Linked DNA regions of Homo sapiens. The protein of the gene in region 5 interacts with the protein of the main gene of each other region in a biochemical or structural test. Each region holds a gene or a part of one and is shown on either strand. Other genes may lie near its edges.

Evidence for each region.
Region 1: the proteins of CBX5 (region 5) and LBR form a complex in vitro, tested with the Homo sapiens proteins (2 studies listed by BioGRID, with this or other methods).
Region 2: the proteins of CBX5 (region 5) and CHAF1A form a complex in vitro, tested with the Homo sapiens proteins (2 studies listed by BioGRID).
Region 3: the proteins of CBX5 (region 5) and NR2F1 form a complex in vitro, tested with the Homo sapiens proteins (one study listed by BioGRID).
Region 4: the proteins of CBX5 (region 5) and STAM2 interact in a test that uses a peptide from one of them, tested with the Homo sapiens proteins (one study listed by BioGRID).
Region 6: the proteins of CBX5 (region 5) and KMT5C form a complex in vitro, tested with the Homo sapiens proteins (one study listed by BioGRID).
Region 7: the proteins of CBX5 (region 5) and ORC3 form a complex in vitro, tested with the Homo sapiens proteins (one study listed by IntAct).

What each region holds. Positions count from the first base shown.
Region 1 is NC_000001.11:225,403,785-225,408,214, reverse strand, and holds part of LBR (delta(14)-sterol reductase LBR), read left to right. Parts: intron 1-1,382; coding exon 1,383-1,551; intron 1,552-3,508; coding exon 3,509-3,589; intron 3,590-3,688; coding exon 3,689-3,811; intron 3,812-4,430. UniProt on the Homo sapiens protein: Catalyzes the reduction of the C14-unsaturated bond of lanosterol, as part of the metabolic pathway leading to cholesterol biosynthesis.
Region 2 is NC_000019.10:4,429,615-4,434,044, reverse strand, and holds part of CHAF1A (chromatin assembly factor 1 subunit A), read right to left. Parts: intron 4,338-4,430; coding exon 4,257-4,337; intron 3,497-4,256; coding exon 3,404-3,496; intron 2,094-3,403; coding exon 1,838-2,093; intron 976-1,837; coding exon 506-975; intron 1-505. UniProt on the Homo sapiens protein: Acts as a component of the histone chaperone complex chromatin assembly factor 1 (CAF-1), which assembles histone octamers onto DNA during replication and repair.
Region 3 is NC_000005.10:93,589,155-93,593,584, reverse strand, and holds part of NR2F1 (COUP transcription factor 1), read right to left. Parts: intron 24-4,430; coding exon 1-23. UniProt on the Homo sapiens protein: Coup (chicken ovalbumin upstream promoter) transcription factor binds to the ovalbumin promoter and, in conjunction with another protein (S300-II) stimulates initiation of transcription. Binds to both direct repeats and palindromes of the 5'-AGGTCA-3' motif.
Region 4 is NC_000002.12:152,144,174-152,148,263, reverse strand, and holds part of STAM2 (signal transducing adapter molecule 2), read left to right. Parts: coding exon 1-39; intron 40-141; coding exon 142-240; intron 241-955; coding exon 956-1,102; intron 1,103-3,306; coding exon 3,307-3,376; intron 3,377-4,090.
Region 5 is NC_000012.12:54,248,487-54,252,916, forward strand, and holds part of CBX5 (chromobox protein homolog 5), read right to left. Parts: intron 3,742-4,430; coding exon 3,555-3,741; intron 1-3,554. UniProt on the Homo sapiens protein: Component of heterochromatin that recognizes and binds histone H3 tails methylated at 'Lys-9' (H3K9me), leading to epigenetic repression. In contrast, it is excluded from chromatin when 'Tyr-41' of histone H3 is phosphorylated (H3Y41ph).
Region 6 is NC_000019.10:55,337,924-55,343,074, reverse strand, and holds the start of KMT5C (histone-lysine N-methyltransferase KMT5C), read right to left. Parts: upstream 3,200-5,151; 5' UTR 3,118-3,199; exon of another isoform or gene 2,361-3,117; intron 1,282-2,360; 5' UTR 1,139-1,281; coding exon 1,029-1,138; intron 861-1,028; coding exon 695-860; intron 683-694; exon of another isoform or gene 428-682; intron 334-427; coding exon 224-333; intron 221-223; exon of another isoform or gene 1-220. UniProt on the Homo sapiens protein: Histone methyltransferase that specifically methylates monomethylated 'Lys-20' (H4K20me1) and dimethylated 'Lys-20' (H4K20me2) of histone H4 to produce respectively dimethylated 'Lys-20' (H4K20me2) and trimethylated 'Lys-20' (H4K20me3) and thus regulates transcription and maintenance of genome integrity.
Region 7 is NC_000006.12:87,662,774-87,666,111, reverse strand, and holds part of ORC3 (origin recognition complex subunit 3), read right to left. Parts: intron 3,110-3,338; coding exon 2,968-3,109; intron 1,370-2,967; coding exon 1,253-1,369; intron 359-1,252; coding exon 279-358; intron 1-278. UniProt on the Homo sapiens protein: Component of the origin recognition complex (ORC) that binds origins of replication. DNA-binding is ATP-dependent. The specific DNA sequences that define origins of replication have not been identified yet.

The DNA.
Region 1 (4,430 bases), on a different chromosome or scaffold from region 5:
ATGGGAAGGTGGGAAGGGTAGGGGGAAGGGAAGGATAGGGAGAGGTTTGTTAAAGGATACAAAATTACCACTCGATAGGAGGAGTAAGTTCTAAGTTCTAGTATTCTATACCACTGTAGGATGACTATAGTTAACAGTGATACATAGTTTCAAATAGCTAGAAGGATATTGAATATTCCTAACACAAAGAAAGAATGTGTTTGAGATGATGGATATGCTAATTACCTTGATTGGATTACTATATATTACATGTATTGCAACATCACTGTGTACCCCATAAATATGTACGATTATTACATGTCAATTTTTTTTTTTAAAGAGAATAAAGTACTCTGGTTAACTAAAGAGTATAAGCCTAAGGAGCTAGATTTTGTGAGATTGGTTTTTCTGTTTCATGTGACATCTGTTTTTCTGTTCCATGGCCTATTTGCTTTCTTTTCTGGAAAAAAATGCTATTTAGAGGTACCACTCTTTTTCTTTAACCTAGAACTTTGATTCTCCAACAGAGCTTATACTGGCTAATATTTCTACATCAGTGGTCTGTACTGAGGTTCTGGGTAGTTTAGAGATTCCCTTAGGCCAGACCTTCAGAGTGTTGACCTTGGTGGTGGTTCCGTATTCTAGAGTCTGGCCTGCCCGTATCCTGGGCCAGAGGCGATCTGGCTCATGCTAACCAAATCACCAGGGAGTAATGCACTTTTATTAATTTACATGAGAAGCGAAGCTGTCAGTTCACCATGTTGCCAGGCAGCTTAATTTCTTCTGTGGAAAATGCACATGAAATGCCAGATTATGAACAGAAATTAGATTGGTCCATGTGGAATTGAAACAAAAAGAGTTGGTGATCTTATTCCTTCAGCAAGCATATTTTGAACACTTCTCTCCATGGCGGGCACTGTGCTAGGTACTGGGGTGGCAAAGGTGAAAACACACAGCCTCTGTCTTTTAGAGGCTTTTAGTGTAGTGAAGAGTGACTAGACAAGTACAGTAACCCAATTACTGCAGCCTACTGGTGGGTGGTGATATCTGAGAAGTGCCCAGGTCTGAGCAGCAGGTCAGGAGGGCAGCAGAGGGTGTAGGGCCTATGTGGAGGTTGGAGGAGGGGTTGTCAGCAGAGGGGAGGGCCTGGGCATGGGGGCATGGGAGATGCTTTAGAGATCTGTTATCTCCAGAGCATGAGCGAGAGGCTGGCGTGACGGGAGAATGTGACAGCAGAAAGACCTAGCAGGCCAGGGGAACCAGATCTCTCTCCCCTTTAACAAAAAAATGTTGATTGTGGACCCGCCCATAGCACTTTTTACATTTGCCTGTAAACTAGTACTTTATTTGAATACTTTAAACACAGAAGCTCCTTCTCCCTTTCCCCGTCTGTATCCTTATAGGAAGCGTTGTTGACGACCATGGACATCATCCACGATGGATTTGGATTCATGCTGGCTTTTGGAGACTTGGTGTGGGTTCCCTTTATTTACAGCTTCCAAGCCTTTTATTTAGTCAGTCATCCAAATGAAGTGTCTTGGCCAATGGCTTCTCTAATTATTGTTCTGAAACGTGAGTATTAATTTTAGTCTCAGTTTAATTTATTAAATATTATGTACTGAGGCTTTTATGCCCTGCTGTCTACATACTTGAAACATGCCATTTTGAATGGCCAGCATTAGCTCAGTTTGAAGCCATTTATCATGAGTAATAAAAAATCTGCATTTTGCAAAGAGAATGGATGGTTCGTACTTGGGTTCTCAGTAGTACTTGAAACAGATTATTTTAAACCATCTTGCTTTTAAATTTAATAAATTTAAGTTGTTTTAATTCGTTTTGGTAACCATACGTCTTTTCTCTTGAGTGCCTGCTTTTTCTGGTAGGCATCTTATAAAGTAAGAAGATTTGTCTTGCCTTCATAGAGCTCACATTCTAACAGGAGAAATAAGACATTCCTGCCTTGCTGTGAGGTGTGTGAGTGAGCACTAAGAGGGGCTTAGATGACGGGTGTTAAAGATAGAGAGAACTTCTCTCTGGGGAGCGTTAGTGTGAACTTATCGGAGGATATGGTGTTCGATTGGAGTTTTAGAGGGGAAAATGGGATGGGGAGATCGAAAAGTCAGGCACTGGGAACAGCTCAGCAAGGGTGTGTGGTGGGGAAGTGTGAGATGAGGTTGGGAAAGACTGAGAAGTCCAGTTTGGCTGCAGCTGCGGTCCACCAGGGTCAGTCATGGATTTTACTTCAGGATGAATTTTCATTGTTCTTACACTGTTCACTAAACACTTATACTAGAGGTTGGGCAGGGAAAATTAGCAGTGAACTGCAAATACAGATAGTTTTGCTACACAAGTTAGTATCTGTGGTAGAAGAAGTTCAAACCATTGGTTAAAATTAAGATTTAGTTTCACCAGTGGTTTGGATGTCCATGTCATCCATTTTATTATTCAAGACAGTGTATTTTATAGTTCAGCTAAAAATGGGGAATGTCTTAGTTTGTTTTGTGCTGCTCGAACAGAATAGCTGAGACTAGGTAATTTGTCATGAAATTTATTTGGCTCATGGTTCTGGAGGCCAGGAAGTCAAAGAGCATGGTGCTGGAATCTGGCAAGACCCCTTCTGCTGCAGCATCCCAGGGTGGAAGGTGGAAGGACAAGAGAGAGTGAGGGAGGGCAAGAGAGAGTGAGGAAGAGCAAGAGGGGCTGAACATACTTTTATAACAAACCCACTCGAGATACTGAGCCCACTCCTGTGATAGCCACATTAATCTGTCCATGAGGGCAGAACCCTCATGACCTAATCATCTCTTAAAGGTGCTACCTCTCCACACTGTTGCATTGAGGATTACGTTTCCAACACGTGAACTTTGGAGAACACATTCAAACCAAAGCAGGAAGTAAAGTTATTCTCTTACTAGTTTATTGAGGATCGACTATATAATAGTTAAATGTCAGTGATAGATTGATTTTTGACATTCTGAAATTTGGATAAAATTAGGAACTTATAGACTTAAAGTGGGATTCAGCATGTATTTAAAGTGCAGGATGTTTTGGTGCTGATTCTAAGCTAGTGTTTGATAATAAAATGTTTGTGCCATGGCCAGTAGGTATAACTAACAGATGATATAGCTTGTAATTTTGATTACACTGAACTCTAGTATTGATTTTATTGTAATGTAGGCTATCTTAGATTTTATCTCTTTCATGGATGTAACTATATTTGTTTTGCCTTCAGAGCGTTTCCTAGGTGGATGATTAAAGTAGTGTGATAGATTTCGGACGGGTTACCATCTTTTTACATAGTGGGATTTAGAGGTTTTGAGTTGTTCTTAAGAATCAGGCCAGGTGCGGTGGCTCATGCCTGTAATCCCAGCACTTTGGGAGGCTGAAGCAGGAGGATCTCTTGAGCCTAGGAGTCTGCTTTGGAAATTTCCTCAGAGCATAGAAATCATTTTTAAGAGAAATTACAGATGCTATTAAGCATTAGAGTATAACTAAGTTATTAACATAGGAAAATATTTTAAAATTGCAGTTTGTGGTTATGTAATCTTCCGAGGTGCAAATTCTCAGAAAAATGCATTCCGGAAAAATCCCAGTGATCCAAAGCTTGCACGTAAGTATTGATTTATGTTTATATTATATATATTACATGAAGGTTTTATTTTTCTTTTTGTCTCGACATCATTAAAAATGTACTTTTATTTTTATATAGATTTAAAAACCATTCATACTTCAACGGGAAAAAATCTTCTAGTTTCTGGATGGTGGGGCTTTGTTCGCCACCCCAATTACTTGGGTGATCTCATCATGGCCTTGGCGTGGTCCCTCCCATGTGGTAAGCATTTCAGAAGAGTGCTAGTTTGACCCTTTTAGCCGCCAGAAAGATGTGTGTGTGTGTCCTTTGTGTGGGACAGTGTGGCCAAGGTGGGTGTGAGTCTTTTTGTCGCCCTTTTCTACTGTGAGGTTGGCCTCTGTAGAAGCTCCTCTGGCTTCTGAGGGGAATTGGGAATTCACAGAGCCTGAAGTTTTACTTTAAGCCTAAAAGCACTATTTTAAGTTTTCAGCTGTGCCTGATAGCTTTTTTCTAAGTAGAATATATAGAAATTAATTCAGCTTCTTAATTCATGATTCAGTGTACATAGATTGGGAAAAACTTTGGTTTTTAAGAAGAGAAAGAGATTCTGTTTTTCTTTTTGTGTGTCTGGCCTCGTGGGGAGCTGGGAAAGCAGGGGAGCAGGGAGAGCTGTGGGAGCTGGAGGTGCTTGGGGAGCTGGGGTGTCAGGGGGAGCTGGAGGTACTGGTGGAGCCAGGGGAGCTGGGGGAACTGGGGGAGCAGGGGGATCTTGGGAAGCTGGGGGAGCTGGGGGAACTGGGGGAGCAGGGGGATCCAGGGGAGCTGGTGGAGGTGGAGGAGCTGGCCCGTGCCTGCTGCCTGTTTGGTGGCCCAGCCTGTG
Region 2 (4,430 bases), on a different chromosome or scaffold from region 5:
CAATGCACCATTCTGGGAGGTGATGTTGGGTGGCTTGGCTTGGCTTTGGGGAAGGAGGTGTATGGGAACTTTCTGTACCTTCCAATCGATTTTGCTGTGACCCTAAAACTGCTCTAAGAGTAAGGTTATTTAAAAAACACAAAAACACCAGGCGAGGTGGCTCACGCCTGTAATCCCAGCACTTTGGGAGGACAAGGCAGACGGATCATGAGGTCAGGAGTTCGAGACCAGCCTGACCAACATGGTGAAACCCCGTCTCTACTAAAAATACAAAAATTAGCCAGGCATGGTGGCGTACACCTGTAATCCCAGCTACTCAGGAGGCTAAGGCAGGAGAATCACTTGAACCCAGGAGGGAGGAGGTTGCAGTGAGCTGAGATTGCGCCACTGCACTCCAGCCTGGGTGACAGAGCAGGACTCCATCTCGAAAAAAAAACAAAACAACAAAAAACAAACAAAAAAAGAAAAGCCCTGCAGAGGCCCCCACCTGCCCACCCCACCTCACCTGGCCGTCGTGCCTGCGCTTCTTCATGAATTGGGTGATGCACATGCTGCCCGCTGACTTCCTCTTCAGCGAGATGGGAGTGCCCTGGCTGGGCCCCGTGGAGGGGACGCTGCCACTGTCCTCTTTGGGGGCCGAGGGCACCGATGTCACATAGCTCCACTGGCACGGCACGGGCAGGTGCTCCTGCTGGAAGCTCTGTAGCACCTGCGGGTGCACGTACCAGCACATCCTGAAGTCAGGCCGCTTCTCATACACTGAGTTCTCGGAAATGAGCCGCTTGAGCCGGGACTTAGAGGGGATGGCGGCATCCTCGCTGGGGGTGGGGGTGTGCAGGTAGGTGGTGGAGGGGCTCCGCGGGCTGCCGGTGTGGTTGCTGAGCAGTCCCCGGCGGCAGTGCTCCTGGAACTCCCGGATGATGACCTTGCTCCCGTTCACATTGCCGTGCAGGAGCGGCAGCAGCTGGGCCAGGACTGGCAGGAGGGAACATGGGTGGGCATGAGGCTTGGGGAGCCACCCATCACCACAGGCCAAAAAACAAAACACATACACAAGCTCATTGCCACCGAGGCTTGGGGCATGGCCAGCTTCGGGGATAGGTGGCCTCATGAGGGCGGGTGTAAGACAGGGTAGCACCTACGCACCTGCCCAGAAGTGAGCCTTGGCCGGGCACGTGTGTTGCCAGGGCTGACTTCAAATGCCTGCTGTTCCTACCCAAATGACTGCCCTGCTCTCCTTGTGTGCCATGGTCCCTCCCCAGTTTTTTGAGTTTTTTTTTTTTTTTAGACAGGGTCTTGCTCTGTCACCCAGGCTGGAGTGCAGTGGCAGGATCATGGCTCACTGTGGTCTGAAACTCCTAGGCTCAAGCAATCCTCCCACCTCAGCCTCTTGAGTAGCTGGGATCACAGGTGCGTGATACCACACCCAGGTAATTTTGCATTTTCTGCAGAGATGGGGTTTTGCCATGTTGCCCAGGCTGGTGTCGAAGCACTAGGCTCAAGCGATCCTCCCACCTTGGCCTCCCAAAGTGCTGGCATCACAGGCATGAGGCACTGTGCCCGGCCCCTCCCTGGCTTTTGAGAAAGCACAGCCCCCACTCCAGCACTCTCTGTGCCTGTGTCCTGGTTGATAAAACAAGCCAATTAAGGGACCTGCCTCGTCCTGCTGCTAGGGACATCATTGAACGTACGGACATGTACAGGAAAAGGGCTGGCCTCTGTTATTTGTGGAAAGAACATTTGCATCACGGACCCACTAGCCTGTGACTCTTGCCCTCAGCCCTGGAATTAGCTGGGCCCAGGAACAGGTGGGTGGCCTGGCCCCGCCCACACTCACTCTGCTCGTCTCTCCTCTCCCGCTTGGAGGCCTTGGGCGTCTGCTCCTCCTGGGCCGGCAGGGTCTCCAGGAAGCAGGCTGCGAACTGCTGCAGTACCTTCAGGTCATCGCCTGCGCAGTCTCTGTCAGCCGCCCACACGCAGCCGATCTTCACAGGTTGCAGGACGCGAAAGCGCTTCCCCTTAGCCAGGAACTCGTCCCACTCCTTGGCCTTCAGTTTCTGGCGGACCTTATGGTTCTCAGGGTCGGCACACTCCTTGTGGTTTAGAAAGCAGAAGTTTATTTGGGGTTCTTGCTCCCCTATGCCCGGGCACTCTTTTGAGGAACCAGTCCCCAGCCAGCTGGGGAGCAAGAGGAAAGGACAGGGGCACAAAACTTCCCACAGTGTCAGGGCCAGGGCAGAGCACACCATGCGCTGGCTGCCCCTCTTCCAGATGGAATAATTCACACCTGGTCTCCTTTGGGAGCGTCACAGATATTTCTGAACTCACCCATGAGGCCTCTTTTAACACCCCTCTGAATTTTCTGGTGAATGTGTGATCGTGGAGCCGTTTAACAGGGTTGGGTGTCTACCCACATGGCCCAGGCATCTGGCAGACACATGCAGGGCCTGAGACCACTCTCTGACTGACAGTTCAGGCCTCGGTGGTCAGATATGCACAAGGAATGCCTAGGCCTCCAGTCCAACCATGAGACAGTCCCACCAAATCCCCACTTCCCAAACGACAGGCCTTCAAAACAAAACAGGACCAAAAACAACTTGCTTGAAAGCAAGTTCCTGCCGGGCTCGGTGGCTCATGCCTGTAATCCCAGCACTCTGGGAGGCCGAGGCGGGTGGATCACTGGAGGTCAGGAGTTCAAGACCAGCCTGGCCAACATAATGAACTCCCGTCTCTACTAAAAATACAAAAATTAGCCAGGTGTGGTGGCACACGCCTGTAGTCCCAGCTACTTGGGAGGCCGAGGCAGGAGAATTGCTTGAACCCGGGAGGCAGAGGTTGCAGTGAGCCAACACCGGGCCATTGCACTCCAGCCTGGGTAACAGAATGAGAATCCGTCTCAAGAAAAAAAAAAAAAAAGACAGTTCCACAACCTTATGGAATCTGGAAAGGGGTGGCAGGCAGGTTCGCCTGCAGAGACGTGGGCAATCTTCTGGAGAGATAGGGAAGTTCTGTTTTATTTCGGGCGGTGGTTGCCCACATTCACTTGATTGTTACGTCATCAAACTCAACACTTACAATGCACATGTCTTGCTGCATGCTGACTGTATGTCAGCTCGGGTGGTTTCCAGCCTTCTAACCCACAGACCATGGCCACGCTCCCTCACCAGGGTGTCTGCTCCTATGGCTCCCCTCGCTTGCAAGCTCCTCCTACGTCTGCCACCCTCCCAGGTAATACCAAGTTCAGGCCCAGCTGTTCCCACGAGTGAGCTTGCGTGCTTGGAATGCAGTCCAAATCTCGTATGGTTGGGCTGGGACCCCCGTCACCCTCCCAGGTCAGGCCACTGAGCACCAGTCCAGAAATGAACTTTTGCTGAGCCGGTGACCTCCCCCTTCACTCCCTCACCTCTGTCACACCTTCGTCCTCAGACAGGTACCCATGGGGCACAAAGAAACCATCGTCCTCATCTTCATCCTCTCCCATGTCGTCATCATCATCCTCAAAAGGAGAAAAAAAAAAGAGTTCATCAGATAGAAAAGCAGAGTGTGTGCCTTATTAAAAACAAAGTAGGCCAGGCGCAGTGGCTCACACCTCTAATCCCAGCACTTTGGGAGGCTGAGGTGGGCGGATCATCTGAAGTCAGGAGTTTGAGACCAGCCTGGCCAACATGGTAAAACTCTGTCTCTACTAAAAATACAAATCTTGGCTGGGCATGGTGGCACGCACCTATAATCCCAGCTACTAGGGAGGCTGGGGCAGGACTATCACTTGAGCCTGGGAGGCAGAGGTTGCAGTGAGCCGAAATCGCGCCACTGCACTCCAGCCTGAGTGATAGAGTGAGACTCCATCTTAAAGAAACAAAAAAATGTAAAGCTGTGAACATCTGCTTTGCATGGCCTCCCGACAGACACGGTGAGCATCGGCAGAAAGCCCACTAGGTCACAGCAGCTGGGCAGTCAGGAGGAAATGGTGTGCAGCAGGCCCGCAGGAGGCAAGAGGGGGCTGTGGGGCCACGGTGCAGATGCGGACGGGATCCCATCCCCAGCAGCCACGTGGGCGAGTGTCACCAGATGAGATTTTTCGAGAGAAGCTGGAAGTCTGGATGTTGAGGTGCGTTCAGGTTTCAGACCACACAGCAGGTCAAACACCAGCTGTCAGTGAGTGAACACAGCTGGGCTGCATCCTTAGCCCCTCACTGTGGGACAGAGACTCAAACACAAGCCGTCTGTGAGTGAAGACAGCTGGGGCACATCCTTACCCCCTCACTGTGGGACAGGGACTCCCCAGGCTCCTCTTCTTCCCACTCCTCATCACTGTCCACCTCATAGTCCAGGAGCTTCTGAGAAAAGAAACACATGGGACTCACAACTGTCTTTGGGGCTGGAGGAAAGGGGCACAGTGAGGAGGTACGGGGACGGAGGCACTCTGGGGC
Region 3 (4,430 bases), on a different chromosome or scaffold from region 5:
CGCATCCGACAGGCCACAGGCGTCTGCCCAAGCAGCCACAGGAGGGAGAGACAGGGAAAGGGAGCACACGGTTAGGCTGACAAATAGCAAAGGCAAAATAAGCCATCAATTTTTTTTAAGGAGAAAATGGAAAATAAAAAAGAAGTAAAAGAGAAAAGAAAAATTCACCCTCCTATACCTCTCCATCCCCTTCTTCATTCCCTCCTCCCCCGCCCCCAATACAATACAAATAAAAATAAATCAAACCCCCACCAAGCCTAGGGGAGCTGGAGAGAGAGGCACACACATGCAGAGGCAGAAACCTCTCTAGTCCCTTTGTTTTTCCTCTTTCACCTTTGGATTAAATAATGTACAATGCTGGAACCATGTTTGCTGCGCTTAACAACCTGTCCTCGGCCTGCAAGGGAGCATCTTTCTGGCCGTGCTCATTAACTTTTGCCCCATTTGCCTCTGATCTGGGGGTGTTCAGTACCCCTTAGGAAATATGCAGCCTGAAGGCAGTTCTTAAAGGATTCCTGGAGTCCCCTCTCAAACCCAAACCACCCCAACCAGAAACCTCCAGGAGAACCTAGATTGTGTAGTGAACAAACACATGGGAGGGGGTAAGGAATCATGGGCTGGCAGTGCCTGGAATCAGATGAAGCCCACGCTTTAGCAATATAGGATTTCAGATCCGTTATCTATGCAAGAAAGGACTCTGCAGCAAATCCTTGGTGAGGGTGTACACTTCTATCTATACCTTAGATCAAGTAATTGAAAATTGGTCACATCTCTGTAAGCTGTATAATAATCAGGAAGAATATGACTCAGTTACTCCAGGCTGCAGAAAGGCGACATCTTCAGCAATCAGACACAAAGCTAGGCTACAGGCAGCAGCTGCTGCTGCTTCAGAACTGGGGGGGTAGGGGGGGATGTGGGTGGTGGGGAGTTGAGGGGGGACTTGGGGGGAGATAAGCTTTTGGTGGCAGGACCAAGGGAGAAAAAGGCACCTCCGCACAATGACAGCACCTCAAAATCTGTGTGCTTAGTTCATGTCAACCAAGGCCCTTCTTGGTCCTCTAAAAGTATTTCAGGACAGCAGATTATATTATATCAACTAACTAGAGGCAAGCATAGGGAGGGAAAGATGGAATAAGAGGAATGGAGTAAAGGCATCCTCTCCTAGTTCAAATACCCACTTGTTTCTTATATTAATAATAAATATTAAAAAAAAACCAGTAAGATCACAGAGGAGCCCTTAGCCAGTCAGGAGGTTGACTAGAGATCAAAGGCAGAATTTGCTAATATATAGATCTGGGAAAAAATTGATGCATGGCAATGCCCCCAAAATGACATTGTATAATTTTGAATGGGCAAGTGTGACCCTAAGAAGACACAACAAATGATTCAAAGTGAAACCTGTGTCTGCTGAGTTTCTGAGCTTTATGACCTTATATTTCAAGAACTGGGATTTACAAAGCATTCTAACACCTTCATCTACAAGGCTATGGCCTCGAGCAAAAATACAAATAAAACTAGTGATAATTCAAGAACTTCTGAGGCAAGTCCCCTTTGACCTCAGATACAGACTAGGTTCCTCTCAGATGTCTAATTACTCCAGCCAGCCAGTTGGGTATATCCACACTGGTCTGATATGGGAAGCCAAATGAGACTTTATGGCTATTAGGGCCAGGGCAGCAAGAGCTCTGTGGGGCTTTGCTGCTTAGAGAGGGGACCGTGAGTTTGGCCCTGCTTGCTAACCTGGCCCTGATGAATGACCCTCACTCAGACCCAGACCCATAATTACATAGAGCTTGCTTTACATGCATTATCTGCCTGCATGCTTATGGATCATTCTCAGCCCTAGACAATGCAATGTGAAAAGGGCCCCTTGGTATCCCGGCAGATTTTTTTTTTTTAAGATCCATCTGGCATCCCCTCAGCTCAGTAAAATATCTATCTGACATTTATGATTAGGGTCCCTGGAGTACAAGGTCACTTCCCAACTCCCAAACAGGCCGCTCCAAGAGAGACAAGAAGCCCAGGAAAGGCCTGCCTGGGTCCTGTGCTGGTTGCTTCCATTTCTTCCCTCCTTTGGAGGTGAATGCCTGTAGCTGGGCCTGCCTGCCAGGTACCAGCCAGCTAGCTCTGTGGCTTCCCTCCGGCAGGAGCCCTGGTTCTGGCCTGGCTTCCCAGTCTGGAAATTCATTCACCCCTTTGCAACAGGATTCCCTCAACTGTGGACAGAAGGTATGAGCTCCCAGATCAACTAGGGGGTTGTGGTGACAAAGCTAGGTGACCAGGGGGTGTAATACAGTATATATTTATGCTCCATGAGTTATACCCCAGATAAGAAAATGAGGCAGAATGTGCAAAATCCATGTCACACTTTTTATACGGTAGTGTCAATGTGGGAACTCTCAATATTTCTTCTACAGTGTATGGAAAAGAAATTATGTAAATAAATAACCATTACTGCTCAGGCCCTCCTGGCCTAGCCTTTGTAGTGCAGAGAATGTATTTCATGTTGTGCATTCAGAAGAGTTTAGTGTTCAGGAAATATAGATGTAATCAGCTGCCATAACTAGAAATCAAAGTTATTATTGTGCTGAAAATGGATTTATTGTATTTATGTTAACTAGATGGCTCCTTTCAGAGAAAGTCTCATTTATTTGAAGGAATATTTAGGTGTATGAACTAATGAATTTTTTAAAAAGTAAGTTCAGGTCATGACCTAGTCCTTGGATGCAGTCCAGAATATTAAGGATTAAACATACCATCCGGAGGCCAAATGTGAAAACCACCACGGGGGACCCCCGTGCCAGCTTCAAATACTTAGCCAAAGCAAACCACATTGGACAATATGTCTAAAACTGTCTTTTCCATCATTCAAAGTTTGCTTAAAAGTTGGATGACTTTGAGAAGGCTTCCCATGAATTCCCTTCTGGCTAGCAATCAAAACAAGTTTAGTCAAAAGTGGAAATGTGTTGCATGGGAGGGGGGAGGTGAATTACTACTGACAGCTCTATTTCCATTTTCAGATATTCTGCTTGCAATTTTCCAACAAAATAATGTTATTGTTCATTTCTAGGCACTCTTTGCACCTTGAAGACTTGATTCAAGAAACTTCCTTGGAAAACTTTTTAAATGAACACTTTTCACAGGAATGTTTTAGTATGGAAAGTTAAAAGGAAAGCATGAATAATTCCACAGTGTTTCCCTGCAGCCTGCACAGTCCTCACCTCTCTCTGGGAAAGGGCATGAGATTAGCAAAGTCAAGGGGGTTCAAAGAACCTTAGGGGGTGTAAGGAAAAGAGAGGAGAGACCTTTCCTGAGAAAACGTCTGTCCAGTTCCAAGTCACATTTCTGCTTCAAGACACCTCGCTGGATGAGATTTTCAAACCCCAGCTTCCCTGACACTGGCTTGCTTCCTGATGAATTTGGCTAAAGAGCCTGGTAGTAGAGAGCCAGCCAGGCCCCAGGCCTGCCAGAGCTGAGGCAGCCTGGTTGCTGCTTCCCAGGCTCTTTGTCACTTTTGAAAAACACGTTTCCATCAAGAAGACTTATTAAGATAAAATGCATTCAAATACGGAGGAGGCTATTCCATAAATCTTCCATTTGTTTTAAGGTTTGCACTTTATCCTCTTGGAAAGAATAACTCCCTCTCTCACTAGCAGACCTGCATTTGCACTGAAAGTAAAAGGGGGGCAGTCCAAGTCCATTGCTCTGGCCACCCTGCATACAAATGAGATGCTCTTGTCTAAATAAATTATCTGCTGTTCAGATCGATATTAATACTACATTTGCTACATTACAATATTGTGCAAATTTAGGAGTCATTTTAATACAATGTAAATACAATTCTTCACACATGAAAGCCAAGAAATATTGATAGATTATACCATTGCTTACTGTTCAACAAGGCCTTATGAAAGGGATTTTGCTATCCCTGTTCAAGAATGGTTTTAATTTGGCCATTGGAAAGCCTGGTTCTAGGATAGATTTATTAGGATGGTTTATTTGTTCTCCGAATGGAGGAATTAAAAACAATACTGCCAATAATGGTGGTAAAACTGCAGCTAACCCTACTCACAGTGGGCAGGGCCCAAGACCCAGTCTAAGCAGCACTACTTGCCACCAGCCTCCTCTCTGGCTTTGTCTCTATTTCTCCCCATTACCTGCTGTCCTGGGTGTTTATATGTTTCCCTCTTACAGGTTACAATAATAAAAAGCGGGGATTGTTCTCGGAGGCTCAGACCAGAGCCCTTCAAAGGAAACGTTAATGCACTTTTCTGGAAGTTAATTTGAACCATCTATCATAAGAGAAATTGTTAACATGCATGTTACCACTGCCTACACATAATTTGATATTTTTTAAGGCACTCTTAAATTTCCAGTGTTCATGTGTTTTGCATAGCTTTGGAATTCATCTTCAGGCGGGGAATCCTCCC
Region 4 (4,090 bases), on a different chromosome or scaffold from region 5:
AATCATAAGGTTCCACATGTTGCTCTGCAAGCACTAACTGTGAGTACAAGGCATGTTATTATTTGACGCAAATTTTAAATGTGTTTTTAATTACAGTAAGTTAATATTTCAATATTCATATATTTTTATTTCAATTAATAGCTTCTTGGGGCTTGTGTGGCAAACTGTGGAAAGATATTTCATTTAGAAGTATGTTCCCGTGATTTTGCAACAGAAGTACGTGCTGTGATTAAAAATAAGGTAAATTTTAAAAACAGAAGAACTTTAAGTCATTAAAAAAATGTAGATTGTGTGTCATTATAACTATATGTGGCATTACTAAAGTATTATAAATGAAGTCATTTTTAGATCATTGAAATGAAATAAACTGTTCTGAAATTTGATTTTTTAATGTGTAGCACCAAAAACTATTCTCCCCAAAGTATATATACTGTAAATAATAGCAAATCCTTTTTGAGGGCTAGTAAGTAGTCATTACTTTAAGCATTTTACATATACTGTCTTGTTGAATGCTCTTAACTACCCTTGGAGCATTAGATTCTTGGAAGTTAGATTCCCTTATCATTCTTATTTTATAAATGCAAAAACTGAGACTTAGAAGTAACTTGTCCAAGGTCATGCAGCTGGTAACTGGAATAGCCATGATTTACATCCAGGTTTCTCTGGCTCCATTCTCCGAAACATGGAGGAAATAATCTCTGAATATAAAAGATCTGTTGTCATTATAGTAAGACTTAGGAATTGGTGTTAAAAACAGTCATTTTGTATGAAACAACTATATCACAACATGTAAATAGGCATCTATCAATTACTCAACTAGGCTAGAAATTTCAGGACTTTTGTTGATGTTCATATAATTAAAGAGAATTTTGATGGTAATTCTCCTTGTTAAATAATTTAAGTACTTATTTTAACCGTAGATTTTTGTTTATTTTCCTTTCCTTTTCCTTAAAAGGCACATCCTAAAGTATGTGAAAAACTGAAATCTTTAATGGTGGAGTGGTCAGAAGAATTTCAGAAGGACCCTCAGTTTAGTCTGATATCTGCAACTATTAAATCTATGAAAGAAGAAGGAATTACTTTTCCTCCAGCAGGTTCTCAGGTGAGAGATTTATTCAGACCCATGGTTGACCCTATAATATTTTGAAGGTATGTATGTTATGTAAAGACTAGGCAAGGTATGTCTAGATTATCATTTTCCACCTTTACTTCCCAAATGACTCTCTAGCATAGTGCCTTCCTTACGTTTAGTAGACATTCTAGTTTTTATGTGTATTTCTTCCACATATCAGAACCTTGTGAAGTTAATCAGACATAGTGTATTTAATGTTCCTCTAAGTCTACAGTCATGCAAAAGGCATAGGTATATGACATACCCCTTATATTCAAGAAATTTGTAGCAAATTTGAATGATAGCTTTATACATGTGAAAAATAACTAATTTAGATTGTAAGTGACAAATACAGGATGAGGGGAATAGACTGCATACTGTCTATCTTAATACCAAAGAGAGAAAGAGGTGACTACAGATTGGAATGGTGAAGAAGGTAAAGAGGTAGAATTTTGAGACTTGAATGTATTAATATTTTGTTAGAGAGAAGTGAAGAAGTCATATCAGGAGGTAAGTGAAATGAACAAATTCATGGAATTGAGAGGCTCAAGACTTGTTTGTTCAAGAGTGAATATGCCTAGAGTGAATGCTTCACATACAAGATGGATGGAAATGTAAGACTAGAAATTTATTTGCTGGGAGAAGGGATAGCTTTAGTAGAACTGGGGTGTGGAGGCAGGGATGTTGACTCATGGAGTGGGCTGGTTTTTTTAGGTCTAGGGGAGAAAAATACTATTCCTTGGGTTTTGCTCTCAGTACCTTATTCCTTCCCATTAATATTAAGATATGGGCTAGGGAAAGAGACGATGAGAAGTACTATATTTTCTTTTATTTTAAATCATAGATTAAAGAGAAAAAAAGATTTTTTTTTTTTTTTTTTTGAGATGGAGTTTTGCTCTTGTTGCCCAGGCTGGAGTGCAGTGGCACAACCTCAGCTCACTGCAATCTCTGTCTCCCGGGTTTAAGCAATTCTCCTGCCTCCGCCTTTAGAGTAGCTGGGATTGCAGGTGCCTACCACCATGCCCGGCTAATTTTTTGTATTTTTAGTAGAGACGGGGTTTCACCATGTTGACCAGGCTGGTCTCAAACTTCTGACCTCAGGTGATCCACCTGCCTCGACCTCTCAAAGTGCTGGGATTACAGGCATGAGCCACCACGCTGGCCGAAAAAAGATTCTTTATAGCTGACCAGACCTAAGGGTACAAGGTAACGTTTTGAGATAAGAGTCTTATAAGTAATAAAAAGGAAACATTTTCCTGTTCTGTCCTTTCTGCATATTTTTCTGAAAAATCTATGTAAAGAACCGGTTGATGGATCAGTCCTGGATACCTGTCTTACATGCTGTTTATTAAATTCAAGCATGACCTTCCTTACTTCTCTGCTATGTCTGGCAGACCACTGCCACCCAGCCACAATAACTAGTAAAAGGACTTCACACATATTCCTAGAACTGCACCTCTTGTCTCTGTCCCCATTCCTCTCTCTTCAGTGATGATCATGACTTCTTGCTGGCACTCCTCGTGTAGCTGTACTCCTATAGCAGAGCTCCTCTCACTAAGAGACCTTGGACAATTGAGATCGGGAATACAATCAGAAAAGAGTCTTTTTTAAATTCTATTAATATTTAAGTACTTTCTGTATGCCAAGTTCTGTGTTACATTTATGCAAAATCTAAGCCAGTTTGATCCCTGTGTGAGTTTATAATGTTTTCTTGAAAAATCTGATGTTTTATTTTAGTATTTGAAAACAATTATTTAAAATTATTATAAAGAACTTCACTTTTAGACCAGTGATGGTGGCTCATGCCTGTAATCTTAGCACTTTGGTAGGCTGAGACAGGAGAATCACTTGAGGCTAAGAGTTGCAGATCAGCCCAGGAAACATAGTGAGACCCTGTCTCTACAAAAAATAAAAATTAGCCGGTTGTGGATGCATACACCTCTAGTTCCGGCTTCCCAGGAGGCTGAGGCAAGAGGATCACTTGAGCCCAGGAGTTGGAGGTTACAGTGAGCTATGACTGTGCCATGCACTGCAACCTGGCTGACAGAATGAGACCCTGTCTCAAAAAAGAACTTCACTTTTAAATGAAACTCAGTTATATCAGTATTTTTTAAAATTTACCATCTGCAAGTAATTATGGAGCTTGTGTTTTGTTTGAAAAGATAGTTGTGTTCATTTTACTCATACATTTACAGACTGTCTCAGCTGCTGCCAAGAATGGTACGTCATCGAACAAAAACAAAGAGGATGAAGACATAGCTAAAGGTAAATGATCAAGCACATGTAATTTAGTGTTGCTTAAAATATCTTTGCCAGGGCTGGGCGCGGTGGCTCACGCCTGTAATCCCAGCACTTTGGGAGGCCGAAGTGGGCAGATCATGAGGTCAAGAGATCGAGACCAGCCTGACCAACAAGGTGAAACCCCATCTCTACTAAAAGTACAAAAATTAGCTGGGCGTGGTGGCGGGCGCCTGTAGTCCCAACTACTCGGGAGGCTGAGGCAGGAGAATCGCTTGAACCCAGGAGGCGGAGGTTGCAGTGAGCCAAGATGGCACCACTGTGCTCCAGCCTGGCGATGGAGTGAGACTCCATCTCAAAAAATATATATATGTATTTGCCAGAACATTTTTTTGAAATAAAAATGATAATAAAACTAGCATACTTTTATTTTTACCTCAAATCTAAAAACTAGTAGCATCCAAAAAGTAAGGAAAACAAATGACATGCTATCAAATGAATTTAATTCATTATCTTTTTTCAGTAATATGTATTTGATGTGCTACCTTTGGAGAGATTACATTTCACCTTTTTTTAATGCCAAAGTTATGAGTCAAGCAGAGAAATATGTTCATGGCTTATCCTATATGGAAAGCTACCCATATTATAATGTCACAATCTGTTTGCTATAAAAATAATTGCTGCTGTGTATGACAGACCGTGATAATAAAGAATGAGCAAAAACTTTATTTTAAAAATGTC
Region 5 (4,430 bases):
CCCCAAAGATACCAAAATTCACAATTGGAAGGACATTCCACGCGTGGATCAATGAGAGATACTGACTTTTAAAAACATAGCCTCTTTTGGGGGTGCTTAAGGGGAAGAAGTTCCCAGATGTGCACACAGCTGCTCACAGCTGGAATGCTGGTGCATGGACTAAGTTGTAAATCATAACTGGCAACTGAAAACAGTTTGCTACATAGGGAGGGAAGAGGAGGCGAATGGAAGAAAAACGTTCAAGCTGCTGAAAAGGAGCCAGGGCGAAGAAAATGCTAAAATCATCATACAGGCAGTAATCTTAAATCAGGCATAATGCAAACTAACAAATTTCTTCTCCAGTGGTCTTAAGAAATAAACACAATCCCCTCCTATACCTTTAAAACATACAATCACCTATCTTTCCAGCTGTCTACCTGACAGCAGCCAGTACTGCTAAGAATGCTATCAGGGGTCCCAGATGAACATTATGATGTAAGGGACATGTGGGGGTTGTTTTCAAGGTCGGCAGCTTCAGAACCTGGCCTAGGAACAAAACTCTGTGCACTGGCCAGTGGCTCCAAGCCAGATTATTCAGACTGCTCCTTTTTAAAAATGACAGAGGCCAGGTGTGGTGGCTCATGCCTGTAATCACAGCACTTTGAGAGGCCAAGATGGGCGGATAACGAGGTCAGGAGATTGAGACCATTCTGGCTAACACGGTGAAACCCCATCTCTACTAAAAATACAAAAAATTAGCCAGGCATGGTGGCATGTGCCTGTAGTCCCAGCTACTAGGGAGGGTGAAGCAGGAGAATCGCTTGAACCCAGGAGGCAGAGGTTGCAGTGAGATTGTGCCACTGCACTCCAGCCTGGGCAACAGAGTGAGACTATGTCTCAAAAAAAAAAGAAAAAAAAAAAATTCTAATTTTACTGGTCTGGGGTGCATCTTAGGCACTGGAGATTTTTTTTTTTTTTTAACGTACCCCCCAGGTGATTATAATGTGTAGCATTGAGAACTAATGCTCTAGAAAGGTATAAATCTAATTAGAATGAAGATACATAGGGATGATTGTGGCAGCTACTCTGGAAGGCTGGAAGATTCCGAAGTAGACTTACGCTTTTATGAAATGTAAAGTGTATGATACATCCTTCACCACAAAAGGCTTCATAACCTTGAAATAAATAAAAGGAATGGAAGCTGGGGGCGGGAGGAGGTGGTAGAGTGTGTGTATTTATGCGCCCACACACAGATGAAAAGAGAGAGAGGCAATAACAGTGCTTATGCTACTTACTTGAGAGCTAAAGATCAGAAGGATTAAAGCAACTAAATCAAACCAAAATTTCATAAATACACTTCCCAAACTGAAGAAGATTCAAAAGACAAAAATTAATTTTGTACGCCAAGTATGTAGAAATAATAGATCAAGAGAATATAAATGCCACTGAACTGTACATTTTAAAATTGTTAATTGAGCCAGGCATGGTGGCTCACACCTGTAATCCCAACACTTTGGGAGGCCAAGGCAGGTGGATCACCTGAGTTAGGGAGTTCAAGACCACCCTGACCAACATGGAGAAACACCCTCTCTACTAAAAATACAAAATTAGCTGGGCATGGTGGTGCATGTCTGTAATCCCAACTACTCTGGAAGGCTGAGGCAGAAGAATCACTTGAACCCAGGAGATGGAGGGTGCAGTGAGCCAAGATCATGCCATTGAACTCCAGCCTGGGCAACAAGAGTGAAACTCCGTCTCAAAAAAATAAATAAAAAATAAAAATAAAAATACAAAAATTATCTGGCTATGGTGGCACATGCCTGTAATCCCAACTACTCAGAAGGCTGAAACAGGAGAATCACTTGAACCCAGGAGGTGAGGGTGCAGTAAGCCGAGATCACGCCCATGCACTCCAGCCTGAGTGACAGAACAAGACTCTGTCTCAAAATAAATAAATAAATAAAATATTTAATTGTATATTATATGATTTTCACTGCAAAAAAAAGATTATCAAGGATTGAAAACAAATGCTATCACTGGAACAAAAGAAAGGGCCGGGGCCGGGCGCGGTGGCTCACGCCTGTAATCCCAGCACTTTGGGAGGCCGAGGCGGGTGGATCATGAGGTCAGGAGATCGAGACCATCCTGGCTAACAAGGTGAAACCCCGTCTCTACTAAAAATACAAAAAATTAGCCGGGCGCGGTGGCGGGCGCCTGTAGTCCCAGCTACTCGGGAGGCTGAGGCAGGAGAATGGCGTGAACCCGGGAGGCAGAGCTTGCAGTGAGCCGAGATTGCGCCACTGCAGTCCGCAGTCCGGCCTGTGCGACAGAGCGAGACTCCGTCTCAAAAAAAAAAAAAAAAAAAAAAAAAAAAAAAAAGAAAGGGCCGGGCGCGGTGGCTCACGCCTGTAATCCCAACACTTTGGGAGGCCAAGGTGGATGGATCACAAGGTAAGGGGTTTGAGACCAGCCCGGCCAACATGGTGAAACCCCGTCTCTACTAAAGATACAAAAAATTAGCTGGGCATGGTGGCGTGTGCCTGTAATCCCAGCTACTTGGGAGGCTGAGGCAGGAGAACTGCTTGAACACAGGAGGTGGAAGTTCCAGTGAGCCAAGATCGCACTATTGCACTCAAGCCTGGGTGACAGAGCGATATTCTGTCTCCAAAAAAAAAGAAAAAAGGAAGTGAAATGGTAAACATTTCAAAGCCCCGGCTGGGCATGGTGGCTCACGTCTATAATCTCAACACTTTGGGAGGCCAAGGCAGGCGGATCACGAGGTCAGGAGTTCAAGACCAGCCTGACCAACATGGCGAAACCCCGTCTCTATTAAAAATACAAAAATTATCAAGACCATCCTGGCTAACATGGTAAAACCCCGTCTCTACTAAAAATACAAAAAAATTAGCTGGGCGTGGTGGCAGGCGCCTGTAGTCCCAGCTACTCGGGAGGCTGAGGGAGGAGAATGGCGTGAACCCGGGAGGCAGAGCTTGCAGTGAGCCAAGATAGTGCCACTGCACTCCAGCCTGGGTGACAGCAAGACTCTGTCTCAAAAAAAAAAAAAAAAAAAAAAAAATCAGCCAGGTGTGGTGGCATGTGCCTATAATCCCAGCTACTACTGAGGCATGAGAATCGCTTAAAGCCGGGAGTTGGAGATTGCAGTGAGCTGAGATCCAGCCACTGCACTCCAGCCTGGGCAACAGAGCAAGACTCTGTCTCAAAACAAAACAAAACATTTCAAAGCCCCTTTCTATTCTTAAAAAATTCACCAATGATCCTCCTTCTCTAAGATAACTAAGTCTTCTACTTATGGAGAAGGCAGAGGAGTGGTTTAACATTTTACAAAGATTTAATTTTGCCCCCTTAATACAATCCAGTGGCCACAAATTACATTTCTCACTTAGCCAGGAGAGGGAGCTGTAATCAACATACCTCCCTGGAAGCTCTTTTGTTCAACAATTTACCTTATAGGTCCATCCTTACAATAGAAATAACCAAAATATGATACTTTTATTTATTATTATTATTTTGGTGGCAAAAGAATAGTTTTTGGGGAAAAGGGAAAGGAAGCTTACCTCTCTCTTTTTTTTAGATTTGATGTCATCGGCACTGTTTGAGAAATTGGATTTCCTCTTGTTACTTTCTGACTTCTCCCTGGGTTTATTATTTTCACCCTCCTTCATCTTCTTATACTTTTTCATAAATTCAGAAATTAGCTCAGGGCAATCCAAGTTTTTCTCAGGTTCCCAAGTATTGTGCTCCCTGGGTAAGAAAAATGGGAAAATTAAAAAAAAAAGGGGGGGGTAAAGAATGAGGAAAAAAATCCAATGCCTTATTTCAAAGAGGACATTCGGACAAAAAGGACAGAGAAACCCTATGCTTTAAAGAAGATAACAAATTTGATCCTAGATTTCTACCCAGGAAAAATGAAAAAAAAAAAAAAGCCCACACAAAGACTTATTTACAATTGTTTACAGCAGCATTTTAATAGCCAAAAACAGAAAACAAATTCAAATGTTCATCAATGGATGGTGACATGGAAAAACAAAATGTGGTATATCCATACAAAGGAATATTATCCAACAACAATAAGCAAAATATTAAAACATGCTACAACTTGGAAGAACCCCAAAAACATTATACTAAGTGAAAGAAATAAGACACAAGATACTACATACTAATTCCATTTACATGAAATGTCTGGGAAAGACAAATTTATAGAGACAGAAAGCAGATCAGCCGGGCACGGTGGCTCACACCTGTAATCCCAGCACTCTGGGAGGCCGAGGCAGGCAGATCACTTGAGGTCAGGAGTTTGAGACCAGCCTGGCCAACACAGTGAAACCGTGTCTCTACTAAAATTACAAAAATTAGCTTGGTGTGGTGGTACACATCTGTAGTCCCAGCTACTCGGGAGGCTGAGGCAGGAGAATTGCTTGAGCCCGGGAAGG
Region 6 (5,151 bases), on a different chromosome or scaffold from region 5:
AAGCCCCAGGAACCCTGGGGTCACATCCGGGGTCTCCTGCTCCAGCGGCACCACGGTAGCCACAAAGGTCTTCCGGGATTAGCCCCACCACCTTCCTAGGATGCCCGGAGGACCAGGCCCCTCGCTTTTCCCCGGTTGGCCAGTCCATGAACAGAGGGTCTCTCTTGTCCCCTCTGAGCTCTGTCTCCTCCAAGGATACCTGCAGGGAGTCCTGCCCTCTTACCAAGCACGAGTGGACACGATCTTGGCCCCGTTGGTCTCCATGGAGTAGCGCGTGCAGGGCAGGATGGTAAAGCCACTTTCCGGCAGGAAGGCACGGAGGTAGCGATAGACCTGGTGAGGGTGAGGGTGGGGGTGAGGAGGCGGGGCAGGGGCATCTTTGGCCCTCTCTCTCCAGGACTCTAGGCCTGCCATGCCACTGACTCACTGTGTGGTCTTGGGGGCCTCATGTTCCCTCTCGGGGCCTCAGTTTCCTCATCCGTCAAATGAAGAGGTTGGACTACATCTCAGAGGGCCCCCCCAACTCTCCTCTCCTAGGATTCTCTGAGCCTTGCCTCAGATGGTCCCAAGGGCTAGGAAGTCAGGGGGCCCCAGGGGCTGCGCTGAGGGACTCTAGAGCGTCTGCCAGGCGGGACCAGGCCCGGTGAGCGGGGAGGACACGCGGTGAGGGCGGGGGAGGGGAGGGCGCCCTCACGTGGGTCTTGAGGGCAGCCTCCTGCCGCGGGCCCCGGCTCTGGAAGTAGCGGGCCGTCCAGCCTCCCAGCGTCAGGGCCCGGTACGCAGCCTCCAGGTCCCGCTGCCTCAGGAAAGTTTCCAGCGCTGAGCGCAGGTGCTGCTGTCGCCGCAGGGGGGGCACAGGGCTGGGGGAGAGGGCATGCCTGGGTCCCAGGGCCTTCCCGGGCCCCGGCCCCAACCCCCACTTGGAGCTGAGGGGAGGACCAGGCTAAGGAGAGGGCCGAGGGGCGGCAGCGGTGCAAGGGGAGGGGTCCTGACCCCTCGGGCCCACCCTCGCCCCCAGGCCACCTCACCTGACGTTCATCTTATGGGTGCGGAAACCGAGGTAGGGGTCCAGGACGAGGCTGGTGGCCAGGTCGTCGTTCTCGCACAGTTCTCGTGCTGTCACTCTGTCGGGCCCCATGGTGCCCTGCGGACCATGCTGCCTCTGGCAGAGAGCAGGAGCAGGTGAGGGCAAGGCAGGCGCGGGGAGCCTGGCTTGGTGCTGACTCCACTCCCACGCTACTCAGAAGCCATGGGGGACGCTGGTGAGCCCCACGATCTCATCTGCAAAATGGGGAGAAAAGCAGTGCTGACTTCACCAGGCCGCTGGCGAAGATGGAATGCAACAAGTACTTCTGAGAGTAGGGAAAGCCCAGAGCCATGTCAGCCATCGCCTTAGCTCTTGCTCTTGCTCCGCAGCGCAGACACAGATCCCCCCTAAACACACAACCCCCACATGCACACCCATGCACACTCAGACTGACACACGCAGATGCCCCTGCCCATATGTACAGAGACCCCCTACACACACACATCTCTTTGGGCCCAGAGAAGGCTGACTGATTGGCAGCCGGGATCACCCTAAAGGCTTAGCACCGTGGGGAGCCGCTTCACCTCTAGCCCTCAAGGAGGAAAAGTCAAAGCTTCCCGCCAGCCCGAGGTCCCGCCCTCCACCCCCACCTCGACCCAGCCTCGGTCTCCGCCCCCTGCCTCCCCGGCAGCCTTCGGGAGTGGTCAGGAGGCTCCGGGTGAAGCCCCAGGCAGCCTGGAGGCGGGTGACGGGAGGGAGGGCAGGGGAGGGATCCCAGCACCTGCTCCCTCTCCAAGGATTCCAGGGGAGGGGGGCTCAGAGGACAAAAGCGGGGGTGGGGAGGGGAGCAAAGGAAGACTATGGGGAGGCAGCACAGGTCAATATTTACAAAAACATTTTTTTAAAGCGGAGCCAGGAGAGAACGGAGAGATGAAGAAAACCACCCAAACCCCTAACCCGGACGGAGGGCCAGCCTCGTCCCCGCACCACGGCGCTCGAGGCTCATCCGCGCCCAGGAGAGGAGGAGATGGGGCAGGGCAAGGAGCGGGAGCTGCAGAGACGGCTGTGGAGGGGTCGGGGACAGACTGCGAGGCTGCGGGAGAGAAAGAGGGGGCGCTGCAGGAGGACGCCAGGGACAGCGGGGAAGCTGGAGAGGGGGCTGGGGGCAAGGAGAGAAACGCACAGCGGTGGGCACGGCAGGGGGCTGTGGGAGGGAGAAGGCTGCAGCCGGGCCTGGGGGCGCTCAGAGGGGTGTGAGGAAGGGATGGGGGTGCCAGGGAGGACAGAGAGCGGGGAATGGCCTAGGGACTCAGGGAGGAGCCAGACGGGAGACCTGGGTCGGGGGGCGGTCCAGGGATGGCGGAGAAGATCCTGGGTGTCCAGTGAGTGAAGGGCCTGAGAGGGCGGACAGGGGCCCAGGGATCCAAACGGGCTTGGTGGGGTCCTGGGGGATCCAGGAAAGGGAGACCCTAGGGAAGGGCCTGGGGACCCAGGGAGGCGCCTGGGTAGGCGGTGAGAGCCCAGGGCAAGGGACCTGGAGGGTCAGAGGCCGACCTCAGGGTCCAGGGAGTGCCAGGAGAGGGACAGAGGGGTCAGGGAGAGGTTCTAGGGCACAGAAAGACCTAGAGGGTCCAGAAGGAGGCCTGGAGGGTGAGAGGAGGTCGGGGATTGGCCCTGGGAGTGCAGGGAGGTCCCGGGGGTGAGAGAAGGGTCAGGGAGAGGCCCTGAGGGTGCAGGGAGAGACCTGGGGGTGCAGGGAGAGGCCTGGAGGGTGAGGTCAGGGAAAGGCCCTGGGGGGTGCAGGGAGAGGCCTGGAGAGTGACAAGAGGTCAGGGAGAGGCCCTGAGGATGCAGGGAGGGCCGTGGACGTAAGAAGGGGGTCAGGGCCCGGGTGAGGAAGCACAGGAAGGAGGCTGCAGTGCCGCGGAGCCCGAGGCCCGGCGAGGGGCCGGGAGACGTGGGCGCCTGGACACGAGGAGGGGCCGGGCGGGGTGGGGGGCAGTCGGGGCAGGGGGCGACTGGGGAGCCAAGGCGGCGCGGGGCTGGGGCCGTGAAGGGGCTCAGAGATCGGGCCCCGCGCCGCCCCTCACCCGCTTCTCCTCCTCCTCCTCAGGCGCCCGCGCCGCCGCCGCCAACACCTCCCACAGCCTCCTTCGGCTCTCGTCAAACACTGTCGCCGCACCTCCCATCTGCTCTCCGGGCCAGCCCCGCCAAGGCCACTGAGGCTTTCTATTGGCCACAGCCACCGCCACTCCTCCGTTGCTACGAAGCTCACGGCGCTCCCATTGGCCAAGCCCCACTCTTTCCCTCCGCGCCCGGCTCTCGTCAATACACAGATAAAACCCCGCCACGCCCCCGCCGCCGTCAAACGCCGCGAACTGTTGTCAGTGGTTCACATCGCTGTCCTTTAGTCGCTGCCATGGAGACTTGTCCCGCCTTCGCTCACACTGGGGCTCGAAATCGACGCACTCATTGGCCGAAAGCGCAGTCTCTCCGGGCGAAACTCGGTTTGGGTCGGGTTATTCAGGTCCAAGTGGAAAGAGGGCGGGCTCTGCCAGCTCCAGTAGTCGTATATGATTGCCTGGCCTTGGGACAGCTCCTCTTTCCATTGGGTAAGGCCTCCGTCCATCACCATAGAGTCGCGGCCTCCCTCTTCTATTTCTCCGAGGAAAGCTTCGGCCACAGGAGGGAGAAAGCCAGACCCGGCGGGAGGGAGGCGGTGAATGCGCGCGCACCGCCATCCCTCTCCCCTCCCGCCCCGCGAGGCCTGCGGTTACCAAGGCGACGAAACTTTATTGACAGCTCTGCCTGGCTACAAAGGGCTCCTCAGTCTCTCTCCCTCCCTCCCCGTTTACACCGTTGCGTTTTGGGAGTATCCACACGCACTCTGTGGGACCTTCCCGCGATATGAACGGGGTCGGATGGAGGGAGGGGAGGCTGAGGGAGGAGTGGGGACTTTTGAGACAAGCCCTGACTCCTGGGGCGCTCCCCTGGGGCACCCCCTAATTGGGATCACCCCCCCTACCTCAATCCTAGAGGCAAACGTAACTAACAATTCATCATAATTACGCCGAGAATAATAAGCTCCACACTCAGAACAGGCGGTCTTTGTTTGCTTGTTTGTTTGTTTCGCCACAGCCATTCTTCCCTTAACGACACTGATACCATCTGGGCAGTGCGTGCTCAGGCGATGTCGTCATCCTGCCAGCATCCTAGAGCAACATCACTCACACCTACGTGGCAGGGCTGCTGGCACCTGGGCTGTAAGGTGGCCGGCGGCTCCTGGGCCACACAGCTGTGCAGCATGTTACTGTCCGGTAACACAATGTAGGCGCTTGTGTGTCTACACATATAGGATCACTGTCAGACATGCGCTCCACTGTACAGCTATAGATCGTGGGCACTTAAAACAATGCATGCCACAGAGTAGGTGCTGTTTTGGTGTGCTGTTTTTGGTGTTTTGGTGTGTGTGTGTGTGTGTGTGTGTGTGTGTGTGAGAGAGAGAGAGAGAGAGAGAGAGAGAGAGAGAGAGAGAGAGAGAGAGAGACAGAGACAGAGTATCGCTCTCTCGCCCAGGCTAGAGTGCAGTGGAGTGATCTCGGCTCACTGCAGCCTCTGCTTCCCAGGTTCAAACGATTCTCCTGCCTCAGCCTCCCAAGTAGCTGGGATTACAGGCATGCACTACCACCCCTGGCTAATTTTTTTTTAGACAGAGTTCCCTCTTGTTGCCCAGGCTGGAGTGGAATGGTGCGATGTCGGCTCACTGCAACCTCCGCCGCCCAGGTTCAAGCGATTTTCCTGCTTCAGCCTCCCAAATAGTTGGGATTACAGGCATGCACTACCATGCCCGGCTAATTTTTTTTTTTTTTTTTTTTTTTAGTAGATACGGGGTTTCACCATGTTGGTCAGGCTGGTCTCGAACTCCTGACCTCAGGTGATCCACCCACCTCAGCCTCCCAAAGTGCTGGGATTACAGGCATGAGCCACCATGCCTGGCCTGTATTGTGTTTTGAGACAGGGTCTTCCTCTGTTGCCCAGGCTGGAGTGCAGTGGTGCAAGGATGGCTCACTGCAGCCTCGACCTCCTGGGTTCAAGCGATCCTACAGCCTCAGCCTCCTGAGTAG
Region 7 (3,338 bases), on a different chromosome or scaffold from region 5:
AAGAGAATTCAATAATGGCAGTTTCATTTTTGGTAAATTTTAAAATATAATCTTGATATAAATTTGATACCAAAAGTTTTAGGTTTGGTCTCATTTTGGATTAAATTCAAAATAAAGATTCAGAAATTTCAGTTATTCTAGCACCATATGGTTAATATTAACAAGTAATACGGTTGTTTGGAGTACGCCTTTATAAATATCTAGTGTAGACCTGGAGAAATTATAAACTTATATTTTATGTGTAGTTGGACATTGTAGAAATGGTTTTAAAAGGATACTGGATAATTTCATTCATTTCTTCTGAGGTTGCAGAATTTGCATCCATTTTTTCAGCAGCTGTCACAACTGTTGCAAAAGCCTTTTGAATAGACAAGACAGAAGAAAATAAAAATGTCTACAGTTGCCAAACATCTTTTACTATACTTCTTTTAATGGCTGTTGATAGCTGGCACATATTCTTCATTATATCAAATTTAAGATTGTCAAAACTACACTGATGATCACTTTAAACCACTTATATATTAAAAGATAAAGTAATGGTTCCTGAATAATCTTGTTTCAGAGAACTAAGAGTATGCAGAGAAAAGAAACGAAGCTAGTCAAAGGTAAAAGAACAAGAAAGCCCTGTTTCCTCTACTAATCTTACTCCAGGAAAATATCTATTTTTCTTGGAAGCAGCCAATTATGGATATTTTTTAATGGTGACAAGACATCTGTAAGGCCTTTAATAGAGTTAAGATCTTTGTAATACTATTCTGAAGACAGAAAGAATAGTTGTTTATTTTAAAGAATAACAACAGTTGTTTATTGCCTTGCCAAGTATTCCTTATACTTCCTGATTGCTAAATCTGTTGTGTAGTTACTTCAATTTTTTTTCTTTTAAGCAAGAAGAGAAATGCTAGTTAATAATATACTTTATTTTGTGAAATAACAGAACTGACCTAAATTGTTTAGTTTTTGCTTAATGCTAACTATTGGGTTAGATCACATACTTATTTTGACCTAGCATGAACACAGAATTGGCTTGGTTAAGGAATTCAGGATCAGAGGGCAGGGGATTGGGAGTGGGGACTGTTGAACTACCACTTCCTAAGGAACTTTTAAAGTTTGAAATGATTTATGCTTTCCAAATAAAAGACAAGGCATTAAACACAAGATAAATTCCAAAGCACTAAAAGTATAAAACTATTCTGAGAAAGTCATCATGGATGGTTAGAAAAATATCTAGCTTGTTCTTTTCCCTACAACCTACCTCTGACCAGTCCACGAGGTTGATGAGCCTGCTACACTCTAGGTGCAGTTTGTATGCTATGCAGATGTCTGGGGCGATATTCGGAATGCAGCCTTCTTCGCTTTTCAGTGCTTCATTCTAACAATTAACAGTAAACTAAGATGACTAACTTTTATAAATTATTAGGAATAAAATCAGACATTAATGAAGCCCCCAACCTAAACTGAGTAAACCAGTAAATGGAATCTTGGTTTCCCTTATTTAGTGAGTGAGTCTATTCAATAGTTAGCTAGTTCTTGTTTAGGTTTATGTCTTGGTCATAACCCCTCTAGTTCTTAGTCACTAGAAGAATATTCCCAGGATTAGAAGATAAGCATATTTTTCATTTCAATCCATAAATTACTAATTTCTCAGACCTGAATGCACTTAATGTAAAAAGTTTATGGAAATCTTTAGGAATACTTAATAAAATGGTACTTCCAACACTTATAATTAGCTGAATTCTAACAATTACTATACTGTATTAGTAAATACTAATACCACTTACCAGGGGTATAAATTTCTTTTAAAGAAAAGACTACGTTGTCAACACTGCAGACCTTAAGCCCTATAGAAACCATCAGTGTTTCTTCAACCTATTTGAAATCCATGGCTTTTACTGAGAAACACAAAGTCTTACATACACACCCTGCTCTGATATTATAATATCAGGGGTATATTATAATATATCCCACCCAAAGACAACTGAAATCATACCAGTTCTCTTCTGTGACCCACCAGCCAAGAAGAAGACAGATTTTGTAAGTTTTAATTTATGGTTTATATATTAAAATTAACTGATTTTTTGGTTAAGTATGAAATTATTCAGTGGTTTTCACCATCACTGAAAACCATTGACTTATATCGTCCTACTCAATATTCTTGTAATACTCTGCATGTTTGTGTGCCGTTTTGCAATGAGAAGCCAGTACACTGGAATGCTCTTCATAGGTCTTACGGAGTTGTTTCTTAAGTATTTATTGTGGCAAGATTTCTGGGTATTTAACTTACCACTCTTTCATGTATATACAGCTTATTGAATGTTTAAAGTGATCATTTTGCCCGGTCATAAGAAAGCTAGTTTCTAAAATTGTGAGCTGTCTTGAACTATTGTTTAAAGAGCTTCCAGGAGTTGATAACTGTGTCTGGACTTTAGCAAGGGCAGCTGAAGTGTGCTGCCCCAGGAGTTTTAGTGGCAGACTGCTGGTTATCCTCTACACTCAGCTCTGCAGATGCTCTCAGAATAGACCTTTCTTTGTTTTAAAATCCAAGATGAAGTCCCAAAGTATTTCTCTTTCCCACTAGAAACAACCATTTCGGTCTTTCAGTAATTTATTAGGCCATATTGTTTAATCCCTGTCTGCTGTTATGTTTACAGGAAACATTTCTTTTATTTTCACAAGAGTGGTAACATTATACTCTCAAGTCTTTGTGCCTATGATCTGACTTTAGCATGTGAAGGGCAAAGATTACACATGGTCAAAAACTGGCAGCAACAGTTGACTACTAATTGCTATCTTTATGGGGTTAGAAATTTTTTTCTACAGTCTAAAGAATTTTTAAAAATATATGAGACGTGCAACCCTGAATTGCCGACTCTCTGCTCATTAAAACATAACTGCAAATTTAGTATATTTTTATGACAATGACGCCCAGAGTCTGAGCTAAACTATCAGAAAACTAAATGTTCATCTTACCTTGAGATAATAGTAAGGATTGTTGAGTGCAGTATGGAGGGCAATTCGCGGAGCAGCATTTAAATGCTCACGAAGGGCATGGGCAGCACTGAAGTACACCACCTCATGGAGAGGCTGTGTCTCAGGAGGCAGAAGGTATTCTCTGAAACAGCCAGTCAGGCATCCATGTTTAGATAAGCACAGGTTTATTTTCTTTATATATAATATATATATTTTTTCCTTTAAGCTCTGTTGGACTTCAATTTTCACTATAACATTTTTGTCAATCCTCTCTCTGTAGAGGACTGAACCATTTACTAAAAGCAAAATTAACAACCAAAAACAAACGAATGAAACAAACCCAAATATCAGCTCTAATACAGTTTCACTCA